4 linked regions of the Homo sapiens genome follow. The protein of the gene in region 2 interacts with the protein of the main gene of each other region in a pairwise test. Each region holds a gene or a part of one and is shown on either strand. Other genes may lie near its edges. The genes, in order: MARCHF5, AQP6, MARCHF2 and DNAJC30.

Region 1 (7,021 bases), on a different chromosome or scaffold from region 2:
AGACATTTGATTTAGATTTCACAGCAAGACAATTTCTGTGATGGGATTTGAACCAGGTGGTCTGATCGTAAAGTACTGTAATCCCACTGGCAAGAGGGACAGGTGTGATGATTCATGCATATGCCAGGAGAGAAAGCACCTACAACATAGTTCCAAAAGGCCAGAACTGCTGCAGTGGTTTCTCCTCTTTTTATTTCCACTCAAGCTATTGAATGATAGTGAGGCTCAAATAGAGGCTTAATGCATAGGAGCCACAGACCGAATATTTATACAGTTCCCCACCTTTTAAAAACAAATACACTTCATTCTCTTTTGCAAGGTAATATAAGTAATGTTAAAGCCGTCTTACCAAGATTGTCCTTTGTAAATTAGAGTTAACACTACTGAACATCAATTTACCAACTATTGTAGCAATAGTAGGAAAGACAAGGGCTCCACACAAGATTCGAGTAGCAGAGACATGATCTGCTAAAGGATTGGCCTCAGCTGGAATTCGAGGAACAGGACAACCTATCCCTAGAGGAAAAAAATGCAGTGCGTTAGTGCTAATAAATCAGAAGAGTTAGACTACCTTCAAACATGGCTAAAAAAGCATGTTATTGTTCTTCAAGATCAATTTGGTATGCACTTTACAACCACAGTTCAGTGCCTTACCTGGAAATATACTATTTAAAATTTGTAGTTTATTCGAGTATTTGCGCCACAGTCTAAGCACATAGTCCTCCCAGCGAATCATCTTGCCTAATATCAGCATGACAGGAATAGTAGGAAGTCCAATTAAAAGGAATAAAGGATCAGCTCTCTCCATAACATCCAGACCTTCTTTATGACCTACAACCTGTGAAACAGATAGCATATATTAGAATTACTTCTTTTTCAAATGAGGTGTTGCATGTTAAGCTCTATTTTTTTAATAGAAAATGCTTAATTTCAAAAGAATACACAGAAATAAAAAGTTTAAAAAATAAGCTGGAAAGCTATCAGTCCTGATTTATTTATAAGAAATGTCTCATTCAAGGGAAAAACAAAGTTCCCAAGCCATTTCATACCACACAGGAATAAAAATTAAAATGGCTGACCCAGACTGATTACATTACAATAGAGGGGCGGGGACCTCTGATTGTTGCTTCTATTCCTTTATTTGATTTGGTTAGACTGGGCTACGGAACTGGGATATAATTCTAAGTCCTATTTGTCTTCCAGCAAAACAACTGTTTTCCTGATCTTCCTTCTAGGAGATTAAGCATAGCCAGCCAAGAGGTAGGACCGGCCTTCAAGAGATGGCCTGAAAGCTCATTTCTCTTTGGCTCTTTCTCCTTACTTAGTGGTGTGTAAGATAGGGTGTGATGTCTCTGGCTGGCTAAGTGTCTACCCTACAGACCTAACCCTCCTTAAGTGCACTTCCAAGGTCTAGAATTGAGGGACTGTAGTAGGAGGTCCAGTTTTGGTTACAGATCCCAGGCATTTTTCCCAATTCAGGAACTCTAGGGTACCCTATCTATGGGGGTAATGAAGCTAATACAATCTTTTCCTTACCCTATCCTAGTCTTGGGGCTATTTCTAAATTGGTGTAGATCCCAGAAGGCGAGAAATACAAAATTGGCATTTGTGAACTTCTACCTTTTCCCTCTCTCCAAAATCCTTTTCACTTCCACATCAATCTTGGCCTTAAATTTACCTCTTTTTGTTGTTGTTTTTGAGATGGAGTCTCGCTGTGTTGCCCAGGCTGGAGTGCAGTGGTGTGATCTTGGCTCACTGCAACCTCCGGCTCCTGGATTCAAGCGATTCTTCTGCCTTAGCCTCCCGAGTAGCTGGGATTACAGGGGCATGCCACCATGCCCAGCTAATTTGTGTATTTTTAGTAGAGACGAGGTTTCATCATGTTGGCCAGGTTGGTCTCGAACTCCTGACCTCAGGTGATCAGCCTGCCTCGGCCTCTCAAAGTGCTGGGATTACAGGCGCGAGCCACCGTGCCTGGCCAAAAATTTTTTTTTTTTTTTTGAGACGGAATTTTTTGCTCTTGTTGCCCAGGCTGGAGTGCAATGGCACGATCTTGGCTCACTGCAACCTCTGCCTCCCAGGTTCAAGCAATTCTCCTGCCTCAGCCTTTCGAGTAGCTGGGATTACAGGTGTGCACCTCCACGCCCAGCTAATTTTTGTATTTTTAGTAGAGACGGGGTTTCTCCACATTGGTCAGGCTGATCTCGAACTCCTGACCTCAGGTGATCCACCCGCCTCGGCCTCCGACAGTGCTGGGATTACAGGCGTGAGCCACTGCGCCCGGCCCCAGAAATGTTTTATGAAAGTGTGTGGAGAGGACCAAATTTGAGCTATGGATATAGTCCAGATTTCCACTTGGTTAATTTATCTAATTAAGATGTAATATTAAAGGGCAGGAGGCTAGCCTCTTCCTAATGGTCAATAATGTCATCGAATTTGATATTCTTCTGTGTCTCCAGGTAGAACTTAACAACTTCCTATCTTGCATGTGGAAGGTGATCCTTTTGAGTTGCCCTAAAGTGAAATGGTCTGGTTTATGATATTTCATAAACCCCAATTCCATAATGGTAGCAAAAGTTAGCTGGCCATGACTGTTTTACCTATAATGATTTCCCAGGAAATTTCTTTATCTATCTATCTATCTATCTATCTATATATCTATCATCTATCTATCTATCTATCTATCTATCTATCTATCTATCTATCTATCTATCTATCTATCTGAGACGGAGTTTCAGTCTTGGCATGATCTTGGCTCACTGCAACCTCCACCTCCTGAGTTCAAGCTATTCTTCTGCCTCAACCTCCTGAGTAGATGGGATTACAGGCACATGGCACAACACCTGGCTACTTTTTTGTATTTTTAGTAGAAATGGGGTTTCACCACGTTAGCCAGGTTGGTCTCGAATTCCTGACCTCAGGTGATCCGCCTGCCTTGGCCCCCCAAAGTGCTGGGATTATAGGCGTGACCCACCACGCCCGGCCAGGAAATTCCTTTAAAGAAAAAAAAAGACAGGGTCTTGCTACGTTTCCCAGGTTGGCTTTGTACTCCTGGGCTCAAGCAATCTTCCCACCTCACCCTCCTGAGTAGCTGGAACTACAGATGAGTGCCACCACGTCTGGCTAAGAAATTCTATTTTTATATCATTAAAAATTTCAATATAATGATCACTCTAACATTATAACTAAATATGATTAAATATTCTCAAAGTGTTAGCAAATAAATTCAGAATATTTGAAAAAATCCTTTGTCGGGTTATGTGTCCTTTTTTTGGGTTTAGAAATATAAAGAAGAGTGAATATTCAGGTATAGACTAGAGCGAACAAGAGGAAGTTTGTTTCTCATGGGTAGCAGTAAAAACCTTATAAGGTGTTTAAGAATAAGGAAACAAAAAGGAAGTAGGGGTTGGGCACTGTGACTCACAATTGTAATCCTAGCACTTTGGGAGGCTGAGGCAGGCGGATCACCTGAGGTCAGGAGTTTGAGACCAGCCTGACCAACATGGTGGAACCCCGTTTCTATTAAAAATACAAGCCAGGCGTGGTGGTGGTCATCTGTAATCCCAACTACTCGGGAGGCTGAAGCAGGAGAATCGCTTGAACCCAAGAGGTGGAGGTTGCAGTGAGCCGAGATTGCACCAGCCTGAGCAACAAGAGTGAAACTCCATCTCAAAAAAAAAAAAAAAAAAAAAAAGAAGGAAATAGGGCAAAGAATGAGCAAAGGCCCAGTATTTCACTTGTTACAACTAAAGTGAAGAGAGATGCCCCATGCTCAAGCAAGTTAGAAGTGGGATGAGGCTCATCATTCACACATGCATTCATTCATTCACTGAATAATGATTTTGTGCTGGGGCTAAAATGGCAGGTTAAACAGATGTCTTTTGAAAGTGAGAGAAAATCAAACCAAACAAGTGTGCAAATATATACACTGTGAAGAAATAAGGTAGTATAACACCTGCAGTACACCACTTGCTAAAACAGTCATACTCAGGGGCAATAAATGAAAGGTGATTAAGCAATAGGCCTGATTTAATTTTGGCCAATACAAAGTCAGTGAACCTGTGTGTAATCACATACATTCTGCTTTCTTGTCCCAAGATTTAAAAACATTATTTTTAAGACTTCGATTTTGGGGTAAGCTCCAGGAATTATATAGAATGTCTAAGAATTTGTTATCTATGTATAAAATAAAGGCCTGGCTGGGCACAGTGGCTCACGCCTGTAATCCAAGCACTTTGGGAGGCTGAGGTAGGTGGGTAACTTGAGTCTAGGAGTTTGAGACTGGGCAACATGGTGAAACCCTGTCTCTACAAAAAATACAAAAATTAGCAGGGCGTGGTGGCATGTGTATGTAGTCCCAGCTGTGCAGGAGGCTGAGGTGGGAGGATCACCTGAGCCCAGGGAGTTCGAGGATGCAGTGAGCCGTGACTGCGCCACTGCATTCCAGCCTGGGTAACAGAATGAGACTCTGTCTCAAAAAAAAAAAAAAGAAAAAAAAAAAAGAGAAAAACAAAAGACCTATAGAATTGCAGGTTTAGAGAAAAATAATTTTTTGTTTTTCCTGCAGAAGGGCTAAAAGCTAGATTTTCATATCTAGGTAGGCCTGCAGTTCATTGCTGCTGAAAGGCTAACAGTTTTAATTAAGGTCTGAGCTTTTAAATTATTATTAGAATTCTACATTAATTAATTAGAGACAGAGTCTTGCTCTGTCGCCCAGGCTGGAGTGCAATCTTGGCTCACTACAACCTCTGCCTCCCAGGTTCAAGCGATTCTCACGCCTCAGCATCCGGAGTAGCTGGGAATACAGCCACTATGCCTAATTTTTTCTTTGTATTTTTGGTAGAGATGGGGTTTCATCATGTTGACCAGGCTGGTCTCCAACTCCTGGCCTCAAGGGTTCTGCCTGCCTCAGCTTCCCAACGTGCTGGGATTACAGGCATGAGCTACAGCACCTGGCCAGAATCCTAACAAGAGGATGAAACAGTGATGAAATAACAGGGTTTTTTTTTTTTTAACTCAGAATCAAGGATAAGTAAGTACTGTAATTAAGAATGGGCAATGCTAATGGGGGCTGTCTTTGCACTAGAGGCAAAAATGGGAACTAGGCTAAACATATTAAGGTTCCACTGTTCCAGGATAAAATGTTCCAGCTGCCTCTGGGACCAGGCTTCACTTAAGGAGCCAAGGGACAGGAGTCCTAATGCTTCTCTGCTGTGTGGCACTGGACCTGTAAACTCTCTAAACCAGTAAACTAGGAATAATTTATAACAATAATCTATGTCATAAAATTGTTGCAAGGGTTAAATGCATCAGTGCTAGGTGTTCAATACAGTGCCGAGAAAAAAAAATTATTGTGTTGTCTTTTCAATAAAAATGCAAGAGGAAGGTCCTATTCAAGTTCCCCACAACTAAAAAGTATTGATTCTATGACAGGTCCATGGAGAAGGAAAGAAAATAAATGGGAAAATAACAGTGATCTGATTCCTTGATTTGGTTTACTTGTACTGCAGGGTTGTTAAGGAATCAGAGAAAAACAATCAAGTGTTAGAAGGCAAACCCTAAATACTACTGATGGTGTAGAGGGGCACATTCTCTATCATATGTGCTCAGGAAGGTAAAAGTCATCTTCCCAATACTCTTAAATCACACAACACTATCCACCTACTGTCATAGCTAGTCTCATTTCTGGGCTAAAAAAAAAAAATCTTTTCAAGTGAGACATTACATGTGAAGGTTATTTCTAAATGGTAACACATATGTGTACTATAGTTTTTGCTTCCTTGCTTATTTCATTCTACCAATTCAAATTATTTCCTTTAAGGGTTAGCTCAAGACTTTTCTCATAATTTCAAATCAAATTATCTTTCACTTTTACTGAATTAAAATATTGTTTATATAGTCTTCTGCCCTCTTATCACATTTATCTATCTAACCTGTAACTGTTCTCCAGTGGTTTCATTTATGAACGTCTTGTCTTGGACTATATCCCTTGATGCTGGGGATCAGAGTTTTCAATTTATTTGTGTTTTAACAAGTGCCCCATTAATTATCAAAATTCTTTTAACATTGTGCCAGCCTAAAAATCTTTCTTAAAAAAGAGCCATCTCACTTCTTATGGTCAATAAAGTCTTAAGAAAATAACTCAATCTCATTTGCAAAATATATATATCTATATAATGTATTTGTACATTAAATAATGTATAATCTGCTCTAAGTTTCTATGTCTTTCTCAGTCTTAGTAAATCATCCTGATCCTCCCTCCTCAGGTGATGTACTAATACTCATTATTTGAAGTGGTCACATAAAAAACATAAAGACTGCCGGGTGCAGTGGCTCACACCTGTAATCCCAGCACTTTGGGAAGCAGAGGCAGGCAGATCATCTAAGGTCAGGAGTTCCAGACCAGCCTGACCAACATGGTGAAACCCCATCTCTACTAAAAAGACAAAATTAGCTGGGCGTGGTGGCACATGCCTGTAATCCCAGCTACTCGGGAGGCTGAGGCAGGAGAATCGCTTGAACCCGGAAAGCGGAGGTTGCGGTGAGCTGAGATCACGCCACCGTACTCCAGCCTGGACAACAAGAGCGAAACTCTGTCTCAAACAAAAAAACAAAAAACAAAACCACAAAGATTTATGAAACCCTTTAATGTGTTAGTTTCTATGTAGATGCTGTAACAGGGAATACAGAAGCATAAAATGGACTCTGCTTTCAAGGAAATTACCTCCTAACAGGAAAAATAAGGCCTAAAAACAAGAAAAGTTAAACAGATAATCTATATAAGAAATGTCACTTCATCAGGGCAGGACTAGCTGCCATTTGAGGAATAAAAATGTCATGAATGTGGGGGAAGAAGGAATCACAGCAGGCAGGAGTTGCCTGTAAGTTCTATGGAGGAAAGCTAGCTAAGCCTGGAAGGAGGGTTTAGATTTGGATAAGTACACAGAAGACTAGAAGGGCAGGTATTAGGTTGGGAAGGTGACGTAAGCCAAAGGACAGAGGTGAAAAACTACACAACATA
Region 2 (7,287 bases):
ACTTAGCACTTTCAGGCTCCAAGGCCCAGGGCAGGTGCTGAGGTGCCTGTCTTGGAGCCGCCATGCAGCCCCGTCCCCACAGCTGTCTAACGGCAGGGGGCAGGGAAGTTACAATCCTAATCATTCACATTTTCTGACTTGGAGGCCCTCTCCTAGGTATCAGCACATTTACTCCTAACTACACACAGGGAGGAGGGAATTATTAGCATCATCCCCACTGCATAAATGAGGATCTTGAGGTTAAGCAACTGCTTAGGGTGCAATACACATGGCAGTGTTCACAATCCTTTCAGTGGCCTCATCAGCAGCTCTCAACAGGTAAGCATTGCTGCCACGTGGCGCCCATTTAACAAGGGCAGAAACTGAGGCTAGGTCAGATGAAAGTGCCTGTCCACCAAGCCCTCTACTCGCCCTGCCTGAAGTGAGGGAAGCAGACAAGTGCCCTTGAGCTACCCTGGGACAGCCCCCAGCCAGGGAACCCCCCGTGCCAGGGAGGAACAGTGCCCACGCCGCCCCCACAGCCATGCCCAGTCATCCCTTGAGCATTTATTGAATGACCCCTCTATGCCAGCCAGGGATGGATGTCTGTGCTGGAACAGTGGAGGCATTGAGGAGGCAGAGGCCACAACCAGCCCCTGGCTTTGCTCAAGCCCTGCTTCTCTAAGAAGCTTGCCCTGATTCTGCTGGAGAGGGAAATGAGGGCAGGCTTCGCAGAAGAACAGCACTTGAGCAAAGTCTTGAGAGACAAAAAGGAGAGGCATCCAAACTCCACAGCAAAGGGCTCGTTCTGGGGAAATATGTCTGGCCTGTTTGGAGTAAAGGGTGCAGGGTGGGCAGTGGAAGGGGAGCCTTCCTTGCATGTTAAACATGGGTATTCAGACCTGATTCTGAGGCAATGGGGAGCCATTGAAAGCTTTAGAGCAGAGGAGTAACTTGATGAGCTTTGCATTTTGGAAGGATCTCTCTGACAGTGAGTGGAGAGGAGAGTGGTGTGGAAGGGCACAACATAGTCTGAGAGCCCAGGAAGGAGGTTAATGCAGTCATCCTGGAGAGGTGATAAGGGCTGCACTGGGCCAGTGGCAAGTGGGGATGGAAAGAGGTGTCAAATATGAGAAAGAGCTACCAGGAACCTGGTACAAGGAACCTATTTGCTATGGGCTGGGGGAAGGGGAAGCACCAGATGCTTCCTGTGTTCTGGCCTGGGCAACTGAGTGAGAGTAGGGTGAGGAGGAGCAAGCCGGAGGGTCCAGTGAGAGGTGAGTGGGTCTGGAGTTTAGGAGAAAGATCTGGGCCAGAGACAGTGTTGAGAGTCGACAGTATCTGCAGGGTGTGGAAGTCACAGGTGGGAACAGGGCTGCCCAGGCACACTCATCAGGAGTGAGGGGCCATGGGCCAGGAGTAGACAAGTCCTGGGCTTAAGGATCAGCAGAAGAGGAGCCAGCCATGGAGGCCACGTGGCAGAGTTGCCCTCACAGAGATGGGAGGACAGCCAGGAGATGTGCCTCAAAGGCAGGGAAAAAGAGGCGTCAGGAAGATGGCCGGCAGCCCATGTGCCACAGTGGGCTGGAGAGGAAATCATGCTGGCCTTTGCCAGAGCGGTTTCGGTAGCCGGGGGCTGGGGGCTGTTGTGCAGTGGATAGGTGGCTGGAACCTTGACTCCAAATCATGATCTTTCACTGCTCCGCGACTACGCAGGCACGTTTATAGGGAAGAAGTCAAGAGAAGGGGAAGCCTGAAAGCCACAGGTGAGACTGGGAAAGGCCAAGAGAGGGTCCCAGTCACTCAAAGGGAGCCAGAAGTCCAAGGAGGGTCCCCCGACCCCGACTTGTACACTGGAGAAGGGCTGCCCCTACTTCAAGGCCACAGGGCAGCTGCAGGTGAGTTTGGCTGGGAGGGAGGATGGGAAGAAGTCTTGCCTGGTAGCTTGGCTTTCTAGGTAGGGTGGGAGGCAAGGGTGGGTGCTCTGCTGAGAGAAAGCCAGAGTGAGTCGAATACTTGAAGAGAGTGGGGGAGGTTTAAAGAATGAGGGGAGAGCTGTGGAAGGATTGCTGAGCAGAGCTGCGATCCCTACTGGGGCCAGAGACCATGAACTTGTCATGGTAGCAGTCTGCACGACTGGGTGAGTTTCTCCAGCAGTGCTCAGCAGCGCAGATGGGGGGCAGAAAGGCGTGGAAGAGGATGAGAACAGAGACACGCAGCAGGGACGGGGTGGAGAGGACAGGGAGCCAGGACCACGGAGCGCTGGCAAGAGCCTGCTCAGGGTGAGATGCCCAGGAGTTCCCTGGAGAGGACATGGTGAAGTCGAGACAGCAGGGAGAACAGAAGGAAATGGGTGAGGGATGTTACTGGGACTCAGACAGGGACTGGGGAGGAACAGAGCCTGTAGTCCAGAGTTAAGATGTTTCTCTTGAAGATATCAGAGGGCTCAGTCCCAGTTGGGGGAAGGTATGAGTATGAGGCTGAAATGCAGCAGACATAGTCATCTGCCCCGGGAAGTCAAGAAGTTTTTATTCATTCATTCAACAAATATTTATTGGGCAGTTACTGTGCCAATCTCTGTGCAAGACACTACATGCAGGGGTGAACAAAACTTGGTTCCCGCCCCCCAAAGGCCTCCCCGCCTTGCCTCACTGGGGAGACACATTCACACCATGACAACACCCTGTGGTGACTGCAGTGTAGGAGAATGCCCAGGTGTGGTGGGAGCACGCAGAAGGGTCCCCACCCAGGAAAGGAGCAAGCGACGTCAAAGCTGAGCCTTTGGAATGGGAGTTACCCAAGCAAAGGGAGTGCAAGGGATCTCCAAGAAGAGGAGAGAGCTTTTTCCAAGGAGAGGCCAGCAAGAGTGTGCATTTGGTGAAACCAGAGGGTAACAGAGTGGGGAGAGGTGAGGGAGAGCTGCAGGGTCCCTGAAGGCAGGCACAGAGCTTCCAGAGGGATGGGAGGCTTGGAAGGGATTTTAGCAGGGGAGCAGCATGATCAGATTTGCATTTTAGCACTTGGGCTGCAGTATGGAAAATTGATTGAAACGGAGCAAGGGAGCAGACAGAGAGACTGGTGAAAGGCTGCAGGGCGGCAGGGGTGGCAAAAAGAGGGCACAGTCAGGAGATATTTAGGATTGAAAATCAGCAGGACTTGATGCTTTTCCTGGATGGGGGAAGGAGGGAGAAAAGGGTCAAGGATGCTTCCCAGATGCCACCAGCTGAGCTGCAGAAAACAAGAGGAGAACATGGGGGTTGGGGGGGGTACCAGGAGACAGGAGGATCACATCTGGAGACAGATTGCGTTTGAGGAGCCTGAGAACAACCAGGGGACATCTGTAGGCAGGTAGATATGCCAGGGATGAGGTCAGGACACCCAGCTACGGTGAAGAGGGGAAGACTGTTATTTCAATAGCTTGGCAGACTCTTCTTAGGGAGGAACACTTTTGTTTGAGAAGATACCTTGCTATCTGCTAGGGTTAAAAGGGGAAAGCCTAGGGCATGGGTGACCATAGGGCCAGGGAAAGCCTAGGGCATGGGTGACCATAGGGCCAGTGCAGCCACAAAAAATGGTTAAGCTGCCTTGTGTGAGAAAGGAGTGAAATCTGTTTGGCCCCTGAGAGGAGGAGAGCAGAGACGGAGGAGCCAAGAAGGGAGGGGAGCGCGGGGGAGGGCAGGGAGGCAGGAGGAAGTGAGTGAAGGGCCAGTGGAAATTTCCCCTGGTGGACAGCAGAGGTGCCCATGGCCTTGTGTGATCTGACGCGGTTTGAGTCGCTGTGGAATAAACCCCTTCTCCACCCGCCCCTCTGCAACCCCACAGGCCACAGTGTCCACAGCGTCCTTGGTAAAGTCGACTGTATTCACATCTGCATTCTGTGAGTGCGGGTATAGGTGGGAGTGGAGGAGGGAACTTACTTTCTGGGTTTACGGGCACGGTGTGGTGTCAGCCCATTTGGAAGCAAAGCCTAGATATGGAGGGGGCCAGACGAACAGGACCTGGGAATGCACAGGACCCCCTGAAGCAGGCCGGGGATCTGAGTGATCTTGCTGTATCTAAGCTGACATTGGAACATGAACAGTCTGAAATCCCATGAGCCCCGCTGCCCTGCACCTGCGACCCTCAGGCTAGACCTTGGACTGTCTACAACACGAGTCAGGCCCAACCCGCCCTGGAAATCATCGTAGGAGGTTCCAGCTCAGTGCCCAGAGACAGCCCCCACATCCCACCCCATCAGGTCAGCTCAGGCTGGAGCAGGCATATGAGCAACACCCCTCATTCCACCCCCATACACATGCATAAGCCCATCCGCCTGCGCCCTGCCAGTCTGACCAGCACAGTCCTGGGGACAGGAGCGTGGTGGAGGAGCTGCAGGTGGGGGCCAGAGAAGCCTCCACAGAGAGCAAAAGCCAGGGTCAGCCAGAGACAGGACACCAGAAGAGACAGGAGATCAGAGACCAGAGGAACAGAGAAGAGGCCCCAGAGCAAGGCAAGGAACGGCCAAGGCACCAGGACATGGATGCAGTGGAGCCAGGGGGACGTGGCTGGGCCAGCATGTTGGCGTGCAGGCTTTGGAAAGCCATCAGCAGGGCGCTGTTTGCAGAGTTCCTGGCCACGGGGCTGTATGTGTTCTTTGGCGTGGGCTCAGTCATGCGCTGGCCCACAGCACTTCCCTCCGTGCTACAGATTGCCATCACCTTCAACCTGGTCACCGCCATGGCTGTGCAGGTCACCTGGAAGGCCAGCGGGGCCCACGCCAACCCCGCCGTGACGCTGGCCTTCCTCGTAGGCTCCCACATCTCTCTGCCCCGTGCTGTGGCCTATGTGGCTGCCCAGCTGGTGGGGGCCACGGTGGGGGCTGCTCTGCTTTATGGGGTCATGCCGGGAGACATCCGAGAGACCCTTGGGATCAACGTGGTAGGTGCAGGGAGGGGCACCTGGAGGGCCAGGAGGCGGGAATGCGCACAAGTGGTGAAGGTGGAGGCCAGGACGGAGGCGAGGGAGCAAAGGAGGAAACAAGTCAGCTGCAGGCTCCACATCCTCCCGGGCTGGGCCCCAGGACCCAGAGGACTGAGACTTTGACCTCAGTCTAGGCAGAATAGAAATGGGATAGTGGCGCGAAGAACAGGTGGAGAAGGAAGAGGCCACATAAAGGAGAAGGAATAGAAGGACCAGGCGTTTAAGGGTAGATGCGGCCAAGGGAGTGCGGGGCCTGTGGGTAGAGAAGGGGACCCCACGGGGACTTCATTTTTCTCCCAGGCTCCACCCACGTCCTCTGCTCTCCGACTGTTCCCAAGTTCTTCCCTCCACCTCGAGGCCTGCCTCACTCGCCCCTTCTCCATTTCGTAACCATCTGTGTTCCACCTTCTTCCCCCAAATCTCCTCCTTCCACACCTGCTGCCAGTCTCCTCTCAAGCAAGCCTCCTGAACCACTGGCCCCAACCAACCCACTGGTGGGGTGGGAGGAGCACCACTCACTTCTGCAGGGAGCAAGGGTCCAGAGCAGATATGGACCCCTCTGCACAGGCCTCCCGAAGTCCTGAAGCTGGGCGGCAGTGAGGTGTCACCCCCCTCCAGCTGAGGAGACCAGGCCCAGTGGCAGGGGTTTCTCTGTCTGTCCGTGGGCAGAGCCCGCGTCTGGTCCAGAGTAACTCCCTCTGTCCAGGTCCGGAACAGTGTCTCAACTGGCCAGGCGGTGGCAGTGGAGCTGCTTCTGACCCTGCAGCTGGTGCTCTGTGTCTTCGCTTCCACCGACAGCCGTCAGACATCAGGCTCCCCGGCCACCATGATTGGGATCTCTGTGGCACTGGGCCACCTCATTGGGGTAAGGAACAGAGGGGACACCGTGCACATGCACACACCGGGTCCGTCCCCGGGGAAACTGTGGAGCCCTGAAGGCCAGGCAGTGTCCCTCCCTGAGCCCCTCGTGCCTTGGAGCCAAAGTGGTACCCCCTGCACTCTAGGCCCAGGATATGGCACTACAGAGGCCGTGGCTGGGGCTAAGGCTCTGAGCCAGGACTGAGAAATGGTCCCCTCTCAGGCCTGCCTTAAACCTTCTCCCACCCTGACCCTGCACTTGCTCCCCAGATCCACTTCACTGGCTGCTCCATGAATCCAGCCCGCTCCTTCGGCCCTGCCATCATCATTGGGAAGTTCACAGTCCACTGGGTGAGCCCCTCTGCTGGCAGCCCTGGGGAGGGAAGGGAGCCTGAGTTGCCTGTAGACGGTGGGTTTCACTTGCAGCTTCCCTAAGCTCAGAAGGCCAGGGTGAATGTCTTGGCTGAGACTTCCTTTCTTTTCGGCTTCAGTTGCCCAGGATACCCAGTGGACTGGCAAGAAATGGGCCAGGGCAGGAGCTGCAGCCTTGGCCCAGACTTTTAAGTCCTGGCTGTTTCCTTATTCACTTTCTCCAGCTGGACCAATTTTCAAACTTGGATAAAGAAAAAGACAAACAGAAATAGACACACACACCAGCAGAGACAGAAACAGCAATAGCCAGGACTCCTGGCTAAAACGGGGGAAGTGAGAGGAAAGAGGCGGGGGCGGGTGAGGAGACTGGCCCCAGGCCCCAGCCACGGCTGCAGAGCCTGGGCTCAGCCCCAGGGAGGGCAGGGAGAGCAAGGGGCAAGGTCCCCTTACCTTGTGGGCTTGGGAAACACGACTCGTGGTTCTCAAATTTAGCACCTTACAGACAGTTGAGGGAGACCTGGGAGATCAAGTCGGCACTGGGGAAGCAGGCAGCGGTCCCAGAGCCACCCTGTGGTCCTGATAGCTCCTGGGTGGGGTGACGACATCCTTCTCCTCAGGTCTTCTGGGTGGGGCCCCTGATGGGAGCCCTCCTGGCCTCACTGATCTACAACTTCGTCCTGTTCCCCGACACCAAGACCCTGGCGCAGCGGCTGGCTATCCTCACAGGCACCGTAGAGGTGGGGACAGGGGCAGGGGCAGGGGCGGAGCCCCTGAAGAAGGAATCCCAGCCGGGTTCGGGAGCCGTGGAGATGGAGAGTGTGTGAAACAGCCTACGCCTGGCCGCGCCCTTGGGCTTCCTGCCTTGCAGGACCTGCCTGGAGGTTCTCCCTGGGGGTGGCGGGAGGGGGAGGCTTGACCTTTTGTCCTGACCAGGTGGGCTGGAGGGGACAAGCCCTATCCCTGGCATTACGTTTCTAGGTAGAATCTGGGAGTGAATTTGTCCCATTCCCTCTCTGTAGGGCTTCCCCACCTCTCGGTGGGACAGAGCAGAGGAAGGCAGGGGATTTAGGATCGCCCTCCCATCCTCTCACCCACTGGACCCCGTAGGAGTCCTGACCC
Region 3 (7,383 bases), on a different chromosome or scaffold from region 2:
CTGTCGCCCAGGCTGGAGTACAGTGGCCGATCTCAGCTCACTGCAACCTCCACCTCCTGGGTTCAAGGGATTCTCCTGCGTCAGCCTCCCGAGTAGCTGGGATTACAGGCACCCACCACCATACCCGGCTAATTTTTGTATTTTTAGTAGAGACAGGGTTTCACCATGTTGGCCAGGCCAGTCTCGAACTCCTGACCTCGTGATCCGCCCACCTCAGCCTCCTAAAGTGCTGGGATTACAGGCATGAGCCACTGTGCCTGGCCATGTTGTAGTCATTTCTCAATCCTCACTCCGTTTAAGAACAGCGTGAGAGAGCCACATCTCTTGACCCTCCGATCCTGGTCGGCCAGCCCCTGTGGTGGGCATCAGAGATATTTAGAGGCTAGAGGTCCACTCAAACCACAGAGGCCCAGGCCTGGAAGAGGCCAAACTTGAGGCTGGACACAAAGAGAGGGTGACTGCAAGTCGGACTCAGCTCTGAGGCTGCTGAAATGGGAGAGTGATCTGATGGCTCCAGCAAACTTGGCCCAGTGCCCAGGAGATTTATTTCTCTTCTTTCTTTTGTCTGGTTTTTTTTTTTGTTTTTTTTGTTTTTTTTTTTTTGAGATGGAGTTTCACTCTTGTTGCCCAGGGTGGAGAGCAATGGCACCACCTCGGTTCTCTGCAACCTCCGCCTCCCAGGTTCAAGCGATTCTCCTGCCTCAACCACCAGAGTAGCTGGGATTACCGGTGCCCTCCACCCACAGCTGGCTAATTATTTGTATTTTTAGTAGAGACGGGGTTTCACCATGTTGGCCAGGATGGTCTCAAACTCCTTATCTCAGGTGATCCACCCGCCTTGGCTTCCCAAAGTGCTGGGATTACAGGCATGAGTCACCGCGCCTGGCCTATTTCTTTTCTTTCTTTTGTCTGTTTTTTTTTTTTTTTCTTTTGAGGCAGGGTCTCAATCTGTCACCCAAAAGGCTGGAGGGCAGTGTAGTAATCACAGCTCACTGAAGCTTCCACCGCCCCCAGGTTCAGGTGATCCTCCCACCTCAGCCTCCTGAGTAGCTCTGCACACCACCACATCCAGCTAATTTTTGTATTTTTTTGTAGAAATGGTGTTTTGCCAAGTTGCCCAGGCTGGTCCTGAACTCCTGGCCTAGTGATCTGCCCGCCTTGGCCTCTCAAAGTGTTGGGATTACAGGCATGAGCCACCACGCCCGGCCTGGAGATAGATCTCATTGAGTCTTCACAACAAACCAATAATTACACCCTATGATGGGGAAAGAGGCTGAAGCTCGGAGAGAGGCACCTACTTTCCCAAGGTCATATAGCTAGGAAGGGGTGGTGTCAGAATTTGAACTTAAAACAGTCCAGGGAGTGGTTCTGGACCTCAAGAGACCTGGGTTCTTTAACTCCTGGCCCTCCTGGCTATGCCACCGATGCTGGGTGTCCTGGTTCAAGTCACTTTGCTTCTCTGGGCCTCATTCTAATGATGGAGCTGGTGGACTCTGTCCGTGGAGGGGTCTCCTGAGAAGGAGCCTCCAGGCTGAATTCATCCAGTAAAGCTCACCCTTAGCTAGGCTTGTTTAGGGTGGCACTGAGGCCCCCCAGTCTTTTCCATACCTGCCCAGGCTCCTTTTCCTGAAGGTAGGAAACAGAGGGCAGAGGAATCAGAGGGCCCTAAAACTCCCTACATTGTGGTCTCAGGCAGCTGTTTTACTCTCTCAGCCTCAGTATTATCATCTCTAAAATGAGTGTTACAGGCCGGGCGCAGTGGCTCACGCCTGTAATCCCAGCACTTTGTGCACTTTGGGAGTTCAAGGAAGGTGGATCACTTGAGGCCAGGAGTTCGAGACCAGCCTGGTCAACATGGTGAAACCCCGTTTCTGCTAAAAAGACAAAAATTGGCCAGGCACGGTGGCGGGGGCCTGTAATCCCAACTACTTGACCAGGGTGAGGTAGGAATCGCTTGAATCTGGGAGGCAGAGGTTGCAATGAGCTCAGATCGTGCCACTGCATTCCAGCCTGGGCAAGAGAGAGAGACTCTGTCTAAAAAAAAAAAAGACGGGGAGTCATAATGATATGTAGTTCATAAATTAGTAAAAAATTAAGAAGTTAATAACTATTAGCTCTTATTATAATTACTATCATCAGCTTACAGAGTTGTTGATGAGAGGTCACACAGTCAACCCTGGCACACACAGTAAGTGCTCAATAAAAGCTCTATTAATATTTTTTAGGGTAAATGTGGAGGTTGTTATTGCATTCATTCCTCCCTGCATGAGAAGCAAGGTTCCAATCCCAGCTCTACTCCTTATGTGCTGTGTGGCCCTGGGCAAGACACTTAACCTCTTTGAGCCTGGACTCTCTCAACTGTATAACAGGGGACATTTCTACTGCTTCCACCTACTCAGTATGGTTTCAAAAGAACTGAATGAGCTCAACATGCCCATTTGACTACCCCGTTTTGAGCACCCACATAGCACAGGGCATCCTGTTTCAGCATCTTTGTGCAAAGTGGCTGGGTCATTATATTATAACTTACTATTTTGCAGGCAGAGCCGCTCTGAGAAGGAGGTTGGGGAAGGGCATTGGCCACTTAGCAGTTGCCTACTGTGTGTCAGGCGTTTTCTGCACCAGCCACCTCCTGAATCCTCCCAGAAGCCCCATCAGGTTGGCAATGGGATGACCCAGTTTCACAGGTGGGGAAACCGAGGCTCGGAGAGGCGCCTATGTGTGCCGGACCCCGGAGACCTCCCACCGGCCTTGACACGGGAACTGAGGTCCCCGCGTCCCCGAGAAGGCTGTGGCCAAGGGATCGAGCCCAGCCGTCCCGCCCGGGTGCCGAGCTCCGGCCTCGAACCCGGGGCCGGCCCGCGGACTGGCGTCCTCCGGCCCTACCTGCAGGCCCGTGCCTACCTGATCCGCGGCCGGGCCGGGCGGCCGCACAGGCCCCTCGGTTCGCCTCGGCCCCGGTCCCGGCCCGGCCCGGCCCGTCGGCGCCACTAGCTCCGCTCCGGCCGGCACCTGCGTCCGGGCACCGCCCGCCGAGCCGACAGCGCCGCGGACCAATAGCGACCGCCTCTCGCCTGCATTCGCCAATCGCCTTGCACGTCCCGCCCTAAGAGGCGGGGCCGGAGGCCACAGGGACGACTTGGGCCGCACAGGCCCCGCTGTGCCGCAGCTGCTGGCTCCGCCCCTGCCGCGTCTTGGCTCCGCCCCCAGCTCCGGCTCCGCCCCAGCACTGGCCCCGCCCCAGCCCCGCCCCAGGCACGAGGGGGTGCTGCTGCGCCACCTGCAGACGGCCAGCGTCCTCTAATAAATAAAACCTCTGCAGAATTTAACTTTTTTTTTTTTGAGACTGGCCGGGTGCAGTGGCTCATGCCTGTAATCGGAGCACTTTGGGAGGCCGAGACGGAAGGATCGCTTGAGGCCAGATGTTGGGGACCAGCCTGGGCAACATGGTGAGTTCCCGTCTCTACAAAAAATTTAAAAGGATGGGCGCGGTGGCTCACGCCTGTAATCCTAGCACTTTGGGAAGCCGAGGCGGGCGGATCACGAGGTCAGGAGATCGAGACCATCCTGGCTAACACGGTGAAACCCCGTCTCTACTAAAAATACAAAAAAATTAGCCGGGCGTGGTGGCGGGCGCCTGTAGTCCCAGCTACTCGGGAGGCTGAGGCAGAGGAATGGCGTGAACCCGGGAGGCAGAGCTTGCAGTGAGCCGACATCGCGCCACTGCACTCCAGCCTGGGTGACAGAGTGAGACTCTGTCTCAAATAAATACATAAATAAATAAATAATAAAATAAAATAAAATAAAAGTTAGCCAAGTGTGGTGGCCCAGGCCTGTAGTCCCAGCTGCTCTGGAGGCTGAGGCAAGAGGATCACTTGAGCCCAGGAGTTCGAGGCCAGTCTGGGCAACATAGTAAACTCACCCACCCCCATCTCTAAGACAGATCAATTTTTAAAAAAATACTGCACTATATGTTCACTTAGTATAAGCACACTTTTGCACATAATCACAGTATAACCTTCAAAATCAGAAAATTAATGTTCATCTAATATTATCATGTAATTCCCAGAGCCCATTCAAAGGCCAGGTGCAGTGACTCATGCCTGTAATCCCAGCACTTGGATCATTTGAGGTCAGGAGTTCGAGACCAGCCCGGCCAACATGGTGAAACCCTGTCTGTACTAAAAATACAAATAATTAGCTGGGTTTTGTTGTGGGCACCTGTAATTCCAGCTACTCAGGAGGCTGAGGCAGGAGAATTGCTTGAATCTGCAAGGTGGAGGTTGCAGTGAGCGGAGATCTTGCCACTGCACTCTAACCTGGGCAACACAGCCAGACTCTGTCTCAAAAAAAAGAAAAGAAAAGTTTCCAATAAAGTCCTTTAAAAATCCAAAGTCCAGGCCAGGCACAGTGAGTCATGTCTGCAATCCCAGCTCTTTGGGAGCCCAAGGCAGGAAGGTCTCTTGGGTCTAGGAGTCTGAGATCAGTCTGGGCAGCACAGTGAGACCCCATCTCTACAAAATAAAATAAAAATATTAGCCAGTTGTGGTGGCATCCTCCTGTGGTCCCAGCTACTTGGGAGGCTGAAGTGAGAGGATCAATTGAGCCCAGGAGTTCTGGGCTGCAGTGAGCCATTACCTCACCACTGCATTCCAGCCTGGGCAACAGAGCAAGATCCTGTGTCAAAAAACAAAAAATCCCAAATCCATCCCAGGATCAAGCATTGTATTTTGTTGTTAACGACTCTAATTTAGTCTCTCTTTCTGGAACATTTTATCAATCTTACCTTCTCTCCATGACATCAATATTTTTCAAAAATTCCAGGCTAGTAATTTTGCAGGAAGTCCTTCCATTGCTATTTGTCTAATACTTTCTCATGATTTTGCATTTGTGGCAGGAAACAGATGTGACGTTGTGTTTTCAGGATGCATACAATGCTGATTTTGTCCACTATCGATTGTGCTAACTTGGTTCAAATGGTGTCTGCCAGTTTCTCCAGTGTGAGGTTAGTATGTTACACTGTGGTGTTTTGTTGTTGTTGTTGTTTTTAATATTTTATTTAATTTTAATTTTTTTTTTTTTTTTTTGAGACAGAGTCTCACTCTGTCACCCAGGCTGGAGTGCAATGGTGTGGTCTCAGCTCACTGCAACCTCTGCCTCCCAGGTTCAAGGGATTCTCCTGGCTCACCTCCCGAGTAGCTGGGATTACAGGCCCGCACCACCACGCCCAGCTAATTTTTGTGTTTTTAGTAGAGGCAGGTTTCACTATGTTGGTCAGGCTGGTCTTAAACGCCTGACTTCAAGTGATCTGCCCACTTCCGCCTCCCAAAGTGCTGGGATTACAGGCAGGAGCCACCACGCCCGACCAATTTTTTTTTTCTTTTTTGGCGATGGAGTCTCATTCTGTGGCCCAGACTGGAGTGCAGTGGCGCCCTCTCTGCTCACTGCAACCTCCGCCACCGGTTCAAGTGATTTTCCTGCCTCAGCCTCCTGAGTAGTTGTGATTACAGGCCCGCACCACCACGTCCAGCTAATTTGTGTATTTTTAGTAGAGATGGGGTTTCGCCATGTTGGCCAGGCTAGTCTTAAATTCCTAACCTCAGGCATGAGCCACGGCACCTGACTTTACACTTTGTTAATAAGTGCTTTCTGGGGAGATACTTCGAAAGTAATTAAATAGCCTGTTCCTCAACACACGCCGTTTCCAAGAGCTTAATATCAATTGATGACCCTTGCCTGAGTCAGTTATTACCATAATAGCAACCAAATGGTGATTTTCTTTTTTGAGATGGAGCGTTGCTCTGTCGCCCAGGCTGGAGGGCAGTGGCGCGATCTCGGCTCACTGTAAGCTCCGCCTCCGGGGTTCACGCCATTCTCCTGCCTCAGCCCCCCGAGTAGCTGGGACTACAGGCGCCCGCCACCACGCCCGGCTAATTTTTTGTATTTTTTTTTAGTAGAGATGGGATTTCACCGTGTTAGCCAGGATGGTCTCGATCTCCTGACCTGGTGATCCGCCCTCCTTGGCCTCCCAAAGTGCTGGGATAACAGGCGTGAGCCGCCGCGCCCGGCCCCAAATGGTGATTTTCTAATTCCATCTTGGGGCATTTCCTTACTAACTGGCTCAACAAACTCTTCCAGGCTGACTTGTCTTGTCTTTTGCCTGCCCCAGGCCTGGACTCAACCATTTTTCCGAAGAGCCCTGGTTCATTTTAGTGGCGAATGATATTTTATTTATTTATTTATTTATTTATTTATTTATTTATTTATTTAGAGACGGAGTCTCGCTCTGTCGCCCAGCTGGAGTGCAGTGGCGTGATCTCGGCTCACTGCAACCTCCGCCTGCCGGGTTCACGCTATTCTCCTGCCTCAGCCTCCCGAGTAGCTGGGACTACAGGCGCCCGCCGCCCCACCCGGCTGATTTTTTTGTATTTTTTAGTAGAGACGGGGTTTCACCATGTTAGCCAGGATGGTCTCGATCTCCTGACCTCGTGATCTGCCCGCCTCGGCCTCCCAACGTGCTGGGATTATAGGCCTGAGCCACCGCGCGCAGCCAATTTTTTATTTTATTTTATTTTGAGATGGAGTCTCCCTCTATTGCCCAGGCTAGAGTGCAGTGGTGCAATCTTGGCTTACTGCAACCTCTGTCTCCTGGGTTCAAGCGATTCTCCTGCCTCCGCCTCCTAAGTAGCTGGGAATACAGGTGCACGCCACCATGCCCAGCTAGTTTTTTTGTATTTTTAGTAGAGACGGAGTTTCACCGTATTGGCCAGGCTGGTCTCAAACTCCTGACCTCGTGATCCACCTGCCTAGGCCTCCCAAAGTGCTGGGATTAAAGACGTGAGCCACTGTGCCTGGCCTTAATTTTTAAATAATAGAGACGGGGCTTGCTATGAGGCCCAAGCTAGTTTTGAGCTCCTGGGCTCAAAGGATCTTCCTGCCTCGGCCTCACAAAGTGGTAGGATTACAGGCGTGAGCCACTGTGCCTGGCAGATAATTTCATTTATTTATTTATTATTTATTTATTTATTTATTTATTTTTGAGATGGAGTTTCACTCTATCGCCCAGGCTGGAGTGCAATGGAACGATCTTGGCTCACTGCAACTTCTGCCCCCAGGTTCAAGCAATTCTCCTGCTTCAGCCTCCTGAGTAGCTGGATTACAGTCACTTGCCACCATGCCCATCTAGAATTTGCATTTTTAGTAGAGACGGGGTTTCATCATGTTGGCCAGGATGGTGTCAAATTCCTGATCCTAGCACTTTGGGAGGCTGAGGTGGGTGGATTACTTGAGGTCAGGAGTTCAAGACCAGCCTAACCAATATGGTGAAACCCCATCTATAATAAATATACAAAAATTAGCCGGGCATGGTGGTGTGTACCTGTA
Region 4 (7,471 bases), on a different chromosome or scaffold from region 2:
TTAAAAAGTACATATCCCCTTCCCCCAAGTCCAGGCTCACTGAGCCAAACAGGTCTGAACCAGATTGGGCTCAAATCTTTTTTTTCTTTTTCTTTTTTTTTTTTTTTGAGATAGGGTCTAGCTTTGTAGCCCAGGCTGGAATGCAGTGGCAGGATCGCAGCTCACTGCAACCACGACCTCTCAGGCTCAAGCGATTCTCCCACCTTAGCCTCCTGAGTAGCTGGGACTACAGGCACTTGCCACACCCGGCTAATTTTTGTGATTTTTGTAGAGATGGGGTTTTGCCGTGTTGCCCAGGCTGGTCTCCAACTCCTGAGGTCAAGTGATCCACCCGCCTTGGGTGGATCCCAAAGTGTTGTGCCAGGCCCCAGATCTTCATTACTGCATCATATGATCACTGCAAAGCCTGGAGTAGGGGCATACCCCCAACCTCCGAGGCAAGAGACAATCAATGGTTTCCCTTTTTTTTTTTCCTTTTCAGGCTAGATTGGCACAATGATGGAATGGTTTTCAAGAGGCCAAGTAGGACCAGCTGTGGGTTTATCCCATTTTACCTAAGGATTTTACACAATACATTGAGTGCAGGAATGGCACGCAATGATTGCACTCAGTAATATACCAAACCACTCCTGGCTTTGTTTAGACCCTAGACTTGGGCCCTCATCCTTCTCGTAGACCTCTTGCGAGGATTTTCCCCTTTTACAGATTCACACTCAGTCCCGAACAGAAACACTTGAGCACCTACAATCTCACAGCCAACTCCCTGCCAACGTCCAGTGACTCACAGTTAAGAGAGCTTCAGCAGCAGCTCTGACCAAAGTGATGACCAACTACTTAACATGAATTAGAAACAGAGCAGAAAAAACACGCCTTTAGCCTGCTCTGCGTAAAGAACCAAGTCTCCACCATGAACACCAAGCCACCAACTCCCCGTCCCTCAGTAGTCCTGTGTACTCCCAAAGCCCCAAAATTTACCCCAGCCTCAAGCAGCCTTGTTTAAAAAATTAAGGAAGGGCCTGTGATAAGCACTGCAAGTTAAACAGAAACAGGGGACTTAAGTGCAGAGTTTGTCACTCTATTTCTGGGAGGGGATGGGCTGCACAGTGTGCAATGGGGCTGGCTGGTAAAGGGAGGACCAGGTGACAGCCAGCCACACTGTCTCAAGGATGAACCTGGCCCTGCTAGCATTATGCTGTAATCCCTGTGGATTAGAACTATGGATAATAGGGCCGGGAGCAGTGGCTCATGCCTGCAATCCCAGCACTTTGGGAGGCTGGACGGGCAGACAGCCTGAGGTCGGCAGTTCGAGACCTCAGTCTGGCCAGCATGGTGAAACCCCGTATCTACTAAAAATACAAAACACTAGCCAGGTGTGGTGGGAGCCTGTAATCCCAGTTACACAGGAGGCTGAGGCAGGAGAATCGCTTGAACCCGGGAGGTGGAGGTTGCAGTGAGCTAAGATCGCACCACTGCACTCCAGCCTGGGCAACAGAGCGCAAGACTCCATCTCAAAAACAAAACAAAACAAAAAACCCCCCAAAAACTATGGATAATAAAGCATGACAGACCTCAAGATGCCAAATGATTTTCTCCTCTGCTGTCATGCCTACAGAGTAACTTCTCCAAGGTCACACATTAAATATGGGCACAGGAACACTCATTCCTTATGCTCAATGACTTTTTCTCACTCCTACATGCTATCAACATAAGGAGGAGTGCCCCAGGGGGCTGACCTTAGCGGGAGGAACGACAGGCTCTCCACCGATCCCATTCTTACCCTGGACCAGGTCTCACCTGCGGCTTGGGGAAGTCACAGAAAGACAAGTTTCGTACAACCCCAGACCTTTTCTTTTGGTAGTCAACAATTGGTCACATTGCACATTTCAAGGTTACAGAGGCCCACCATACACATGCGGGGCAGGAGGAGATAAATCTTGCTTGGGGCTAAACAATAAAGCTACAGCGAGTGTTCCAGAAGTTGACCACATCTGGAAGCAAGAAGACAGACTCTGGAAGAAGCACCCTAGAGACTCCAGGAACCCCCTTCACTCCTGGGCTTTCGGGACTCTACAGCGTGGGGCCTCTTTCTCAGACATCGAAAGGCCTCCTTTTCTGGACCACAGTGGAGCGATGTGCAGGTCATCGGCTAAGCTGGGCGGGTCGGGGAGGGCAGGGGGAGTACAGTTCCTTCGGATCCCAGCAAAGGTAGACTATCAATGGCCAAGGGTTCAGAGGCAGGAAAAAAGGCCGTTTCTGGGGGGTTGGCTGGGGACACTCCCCTTCCCTTCTCTCTCCGATTAAATATAAAAGCCGATGATGATGAAGATTGAAAAGATGAGGAAAATGGCAGCCGTGTCTCGGGTATCCTCCCAGCGGAGGCCTTTCATGGACCGATACTCCTGCCGTTTGCGAAGGGCCTCCCGCCGGGCCCTCAGGCGCCGTTCCCGCTCCAGTTGTTCCCCGTAGTGGGCCTGGTAGAAGGCGTCAAAGTTGAACATCGTGCGGTTGGCGCCGGGGGAGGCCCGAGAACCGTCGTGGGTCCGAGAGGTGGGCGGCGGGGTACGCGGCGAGCCGGGGTCGGGTGCGGGCGTCCTGGAGGGCCGGACGCCAGGTCCGCGCAGGTCCTCGTCGCTGAGTAGGCCGCGATCATACTTGCGACGGAGGGTGGCACTGCCCAGCACCACGTAGGCCTGGGAGATGCGCGTGAAGCGCTCGGCGGCCTCCGCGCTCCCGGAGTTGCGGTCCGGGTGGTAGAGAAAGCACTGACGGTAGTAAGCCGCCTTGATTTGGGCCTGCGTGGCTGTGGAGGGGACGCCGAGCAGATCATACAGCGCCGTGCGCGAATACGAGCAGTCGCCCTGGGAATAAGTCCTCGCTCCTAGGCCCAGGCTGGGTGCAGAATTTTGTGGAAAGCCACGGGCCTGCAGCAACCTCCAAGGTAACAGCCGCTGCCACCATCGCCAGCGCATGGCTGCCATGTTGAATTGATTCGGCAGGCGGTGCAAGAGAAACCGGCCAATGAGAGGAGTCGGTTGGTCGCCCTGTGGCCAGTCACGTAAAGGGGGGGGCGGGGCGGTCGTGGGGGTGGAACATGCGTATTACTAAGCGGTCGCCGGGCTGATGACATAAAAACCGGGTGCCGGCAGGCGCCAGTCGCAGGTGTGCTGCTGAGGCGTGAGAATGGCGTCCCGCGGCCGGCGTCCGGAGCATGGCGGACCCCCAGAGCTGGTAAGTCCCGGGGCCCGCGGACACCCCTCTCCCCACTTCTGCGGCCACCGCGTCTGAATTATTCCTCTACATGCCATTTTCTCTTTTTCGCAGTTTTATGACGAGACAGAAGCCCGGAAATACGTTCGCAAGTGAGGGGAGCCTGAATACTGCGGGGCGTCCGGGGGTCGGGAAGCGGCAAGTTGCCCCTGTTGCTGGCGTTGCCCGGAAAGGCCGTAGAATTTGGGGGTGCGGGAAGGGAAGGACCCGGGTGGGTGCCGATTTCTGTCTCTGGTAAATCAACTTTAAGTTGCCGACCTCTCTGGGCCTCGGTACCTCAGCGTTGAGGTAGGGGTGATCGCGCTTGCTTTCCGTGGGTGGTTTTCAAAGTCGAATGTGACAATTTGTCCTAAACATGTGGTAAAAGAGGCGCTGGGCGGTGGGTACGGGCGAGGGGTCAGTCCTGGTGGGGGGAAGGAAGTAATGGCCGTAGGATGCTTATCGTGGCGCCTTGTTGCCAATAAATCTCCAAGACAGCAGTTGGTGTATTATTGTCTGAATTTCATAGAGGGTAGTTTGTATAACTACTGAGTTGTAGCCAGGTGGGAGTGGCTCACGCGTGTAATCTCAGCAATCGCAGCACTTTGGGAGGCTGAGGCGGGAGGATCGCTTGAGCTCAGGGGTTCGAGACCAGCCTGGGCAACGTAGCGAGCCCCCGTCTCCGCAAGTAATAAAAAAATTAGCCGGGTGTGGTGGCTCCCCTCTGCCTCTCCAGTAGTTGGGACCACAGGCGCGCGCCACTACGCCTGGCTTTTTTTTGTAAATTTTTGTTGCGATGGGGTCTCGCTGTGTTGCCCAAGGTGGCCCAAGCCCAGGGCTCAAGCGATCCTCCCGCCTTCGTCTCCCGAACTGTTGGGATTGCAGGCGTGAGCCAGCGCACCTCGAGTCGTTAAAAAAAAAAAAAAGGGGGGGGGATGGGGGCGGGGGGAAGCTGGCGCGGTGTCTCACGCCTGTAATCGCAACACTTTGGGAGGCTGAGGCAGACGGATCACCTGAGGTCAGGAGTTCGAGACCAGCCTGGCCAACATGGCGAAACTCCAGCTCTACTAAAAATGGAAAAAATTAGCCGGGCGCGATGGCGGGTTTCTGTAACCCCAGCTACTCGGGAGGCTGAGGCAGGAGAATAGCTTGAACCCGGGAGGGGGAGGTTGCAGTGAGCCGACATCACGGCACTGCACTCCAGCCTGGGCGACAGAGCAAGACTTTGTTTCAAAAAAAAAAAAAAAAAAAAAAAAAAAAAAAAAAAAGATACTTTGTGGTTTTTCCGTGCTCTCTCACTGAGAGACTAGCCCTATTTCAGTAAATGGTTACTGGCCGGGCGCTATGGCTCATACCAGTAATCCCAGCCCTGTGGGAGGCGGAGGTGGACGGATCACCTGAGGTCAGGAATTCCGAGACCAACCTGGCCAGCATGGTGAAATCCCGTCTCTACTGAAAATACAGATATTAGCCGGGCCTACGGGAGGCTGAGGCAGGAGAATCACTTGAACCTGAGAGGCAGAGGTTGCAGTGAGCTGCGATCGCACCACTGCACTCCAGCCTTGGCGACAGAGTGAGACCCTGACTCAATAAATAAATAAATAGCTATTGGATACTGTTTCTTTTTTTTAGGGACAGGGTCTCTCTATTGCCCAGGCTGGAGTGCCATGGCATGATCCCTGCCGACTGCAGCCTCAAGCCATCCTCCCCAGCAGCCGGAACTAGAGGCACTCGCCACCACACCGGCTGAAATAGCTTGATAATTTTTTGTGCGTGTGAGACAGGCTCTCATTCTATCGCCCAGGCCGAAGTGCTGCAGTGGCTGCAACCTCGCCTCCCGGGTAGTTGGAACTACAGGCGCGCCTCCTCGCGCCCGACTAGTTTGTGTAATTTTTTTGTGGAGAGGGAGTTTTGCTATGTTGCCCAGGGATCTGGTAAGTTGCTCACGGGATCCACCCGCCTTGGCCTCCCAAAGTACTGGGATTATAGGCGTGAGCCACCAGGCCCGGTCCTTGCTGATGACTTTTTATGTCGATTATATGTTGAAGTGATATTTTGAACATATTGAGTTAATGGAAATACGTTATTAAATATATGGGGTTAAAAATATGACTCCAGAGGCCGGGCGCGGTGGCTCACGCCTGTAATCCCAGCACTTTGGGAGGCCGAGGCTGGCGGATCACAAGGTCAGGAGATAGAGAAATCCTGGCTAACATGGTGAAACCCCGTCTCTACTGAAAATGCAAAAAAAAAAATTAGCCGGGCGTGGCGGCGGGCGCCTGTAGTCCCAGCTGCTGGGGAAGCTGAGGCAGGAGAATGGCATTAACCCGGGAGGCGGAGCTTGCAGTGAGCCGAGATCGCGCCACTGCACTCCAGCCTGGGCGACAACAGAGCAAGACTCCGTCTCAAAAAAAAAAAAAAATATGACTCCAGTTTCTTTTACCTGTTTCTTTAAGTTTCTTCTTGACTGGCTATTGGGAAGCCATGCGTGGCTCACATTCTGTTTCTCACAGACAGTGCTGCTGTAGGTTTTTGTGCATTGTTGATCCTTCTAGATGAGAGAAACTATGGAGAATAATTTTTGGAGAAAATGTTTTCAACAAGTGCTAGAGCAGCCCAGCCTAATAGAGTTGCAGATCCCAGTGGTTGTTTATTACTAGCTAAGTGATTTGCTTTTACACATCTGCTTGGCAGCTGGTGCAATGATAAGTTGTTACCACAAAATAACATGGTCCTGAATTACATGGAATTTTTGGGGTCACTTTCGAATGGTTGAATTTGTTGATCCCAACTTAGAAGGGGTCAGAAAAGAGTACCTCGGGATGATTGATCCGTTTTTTGTTTGTTTTTAACTTGGCTTTTTTTTGTTTTTTGTTTTTTGGTCTGGGGGAAGTATTCACCCAGAACTCCTTTACCATGTCCACTTGTGTTTCTGCCTTACCAGCTCACGGATGATTGATATCCAGACCAGGATGGCTGGGCGAGCATTGGAGCTTCTTTATCTGCCAGAGAATAAGCCCTGTTACCTGCTGGATATTGGGTGAGATTCTGGGGCCTGGTTCAGATTGTCTAAGGTGGTGAAGTGTCTTTGTAAACTGACCCTGAGTGTCTGGTCATGTCTTCCAGCTGTGGCACTGGGCTGAGTGGAAGTTATCTGTCAGATGAAGGGCACTATTGGGTGGGCCTGGATATCAGCCCTGCCATGCTGGGTAAGTATGTCCTGTCTGGCACCAGGGTGGATTACCCTGATGGGTGTGGAGAAGCCACAGGTATTTCTCTTTCTCTGACTGCCTTTTCTCTAATGTAGATGAGGCTGTGGACCGAGAGATAGAGGGAGACCTGCTGCTGGGGGATATGGGCCAGGGCATCCCATTCAAGCCAGGCACATTTGATGGTTGCATCAGGTGAGGGTCTTTAATTCCTGCTTTTATTTATTTAGAGACAGGGTCTCACTCTATCACTTAGGCTCTAGTGCAGTGTCTGTGATTATGGCTCACACTGCAGCCTCCACCTCCTGGGTTCAGGTGATCTGCCCACCTCAGTCTCCTGAGTAGCTGGGACTACAGGCCCACACCACCGTACCTAGCTAATTTTTTGTTTTTTTGAGATGGAGTCTTGCTCTGTCACCAGGCTGGAGTGCAGTGGTGTGATCTTGGCTCACTGCAGCCTTCGCCTCCCAGGCTCAAGCGATTCTCCTGCCTCAGCCTCCCAAGTAGCTGAGATTACAGGAGCACGCCACCACACCCAACTAATTTTTGTATTTTTAGTGGAGGTGAGGTTTCACTATGTTGGCCGGGATGGTTTCAATCTCTTGACCTTGTGATCCACCCTCCTCGGCCTCCCAAAGTGCTGGGATTACAGGTGTGAGCCACCGTGCACAGCCTAACTTTTTTTGTATTTGTTGTAGAGATGGGTTTTTGCTATGTTGCTCAGGCGATCCACACACCTGGGCCTCCCAAAATGCTGGGATTATAGGTGTGAGCCACCCTGGCCTCTTTCTTCCTGCTTTTAGTCCTGCAAGCCAGTGCCTCCCAAACCTGGCTGTGCAGCAGACTCATGCAGATATTTACAAATACACATCCCATGGGATTTTCAGATTTACAAGGTTAGAGCAAGGCCCAAGAGTGTATTTTTTTGGATTCTAAAACTTTGCAGTCTGGCCAACATGGTGAAACCCAGCCTCTACTAAAAAGCCAGACGTGGTTGTTGTTTTTTTTTTTTTGAG

Evidence for each region.
Region 1: the proteins of AQP6 (region 2) and MARCHF5 interact in binary tests that used the Homo sapiens proteins (3 or more experiments, as listed by UniProt).
Region 3: the proteins of AQP6 (region 2) and MARCHF2 interact in binary tests that used the Homo sapiens proteins (3 or more experiments, as listed by UniProt).
Region 4: the proteins of AQP6 (region 2) and DNAJC30 interact in binary tests that used the Homo sapiens proteins (3 or more experiments, as listed by UniProt).

The regions. Positions count from the first base shown.
Region 1 is NC_000010.11:92,343,166-92,350,186, reverse strand, and holds part of MARCHF5 (E3 ubiquitin-protein ligase MARCHF5), read right to left. Parts: intron 839-7,021; coding exon 655-838; intron 517-654; coding exon 350-516; intron 1-349. UniProt on the Homo sapiens protein: Mitochondrial E3 ubiquitin-protein ligase that plays a crucial role in the control of mitochondrial morphology by acting as a positive regulator of mitochondrial fission and as an important regulator of immune response.
Region 2 is NC_000012.12:49,968,680-49,975,966, forward strand, and holds the start of AQP6 (aquaporin-6), read left to right. Parts: upstream 1-4,267; 5' UTR 4,268-4,494; coding exon 4,495-4,896; intron 4,897-5,644; coding exon 5,645-5,803; intron 5,804-6,066; coding exon 6,067-6,147; intron 6,148-6,618; exon of another isoform or gene 6,619-6,785; coding exon 6,786-6,992; 3' UTR 6,993-7,287. UniProt on the Homo sapiens protein: Aquaporins form homotetrameric transmembrane channels, with each monomer independently mediating water transport across the plasma membrane along its osmotic gradient.
Region 3 is NC_000019.10:8,408,942-8,416,324, reverse strand, and holds the start of MARCHF2 (E3 ubiquitin-protein ligase MARCHF2), read right to left. Parts: upstream 3,021-7,383; 5' UTR 2,905-3,020; exon of another isoform or gene 2,531-2,904; intron 1-2,530. UniProt on the Homo sapiens protein: E3 ubiquitin-protein ligase that may mediate ubiquitination of TFRC and CD86, and promote their subsequent endocytosis and sorting to lysosomes via multivesicular bodies.
Region 4 is NC_000007.14:73,680,446-73,687,916, forward strand, and holds DNAJC30 (dnaJ homolog subfamily C member 30, mitochondrial precursor), read right to left. Parts: upstream 3,009-7,471; 5' UTR 2,979-3,008; coding exon 2,298-2,978; 3' UTR 473-2,297; downstream 1-472. Other genes in the region: BUD23 (18S rRNA (guanine-N(7))-methyltransferase), read left to right, coding at 3,209-3,228, 3,322-3,456, 6,191-6,286, 6,373-6,455, 6,554-6,650. UniProt on the Homo sapiens protein: Mitochondrial protein enriched in neurons that acts as a regulator of mitochondrial respiration. Associates with the ATP synthase complex and facilitates ATP synthesis.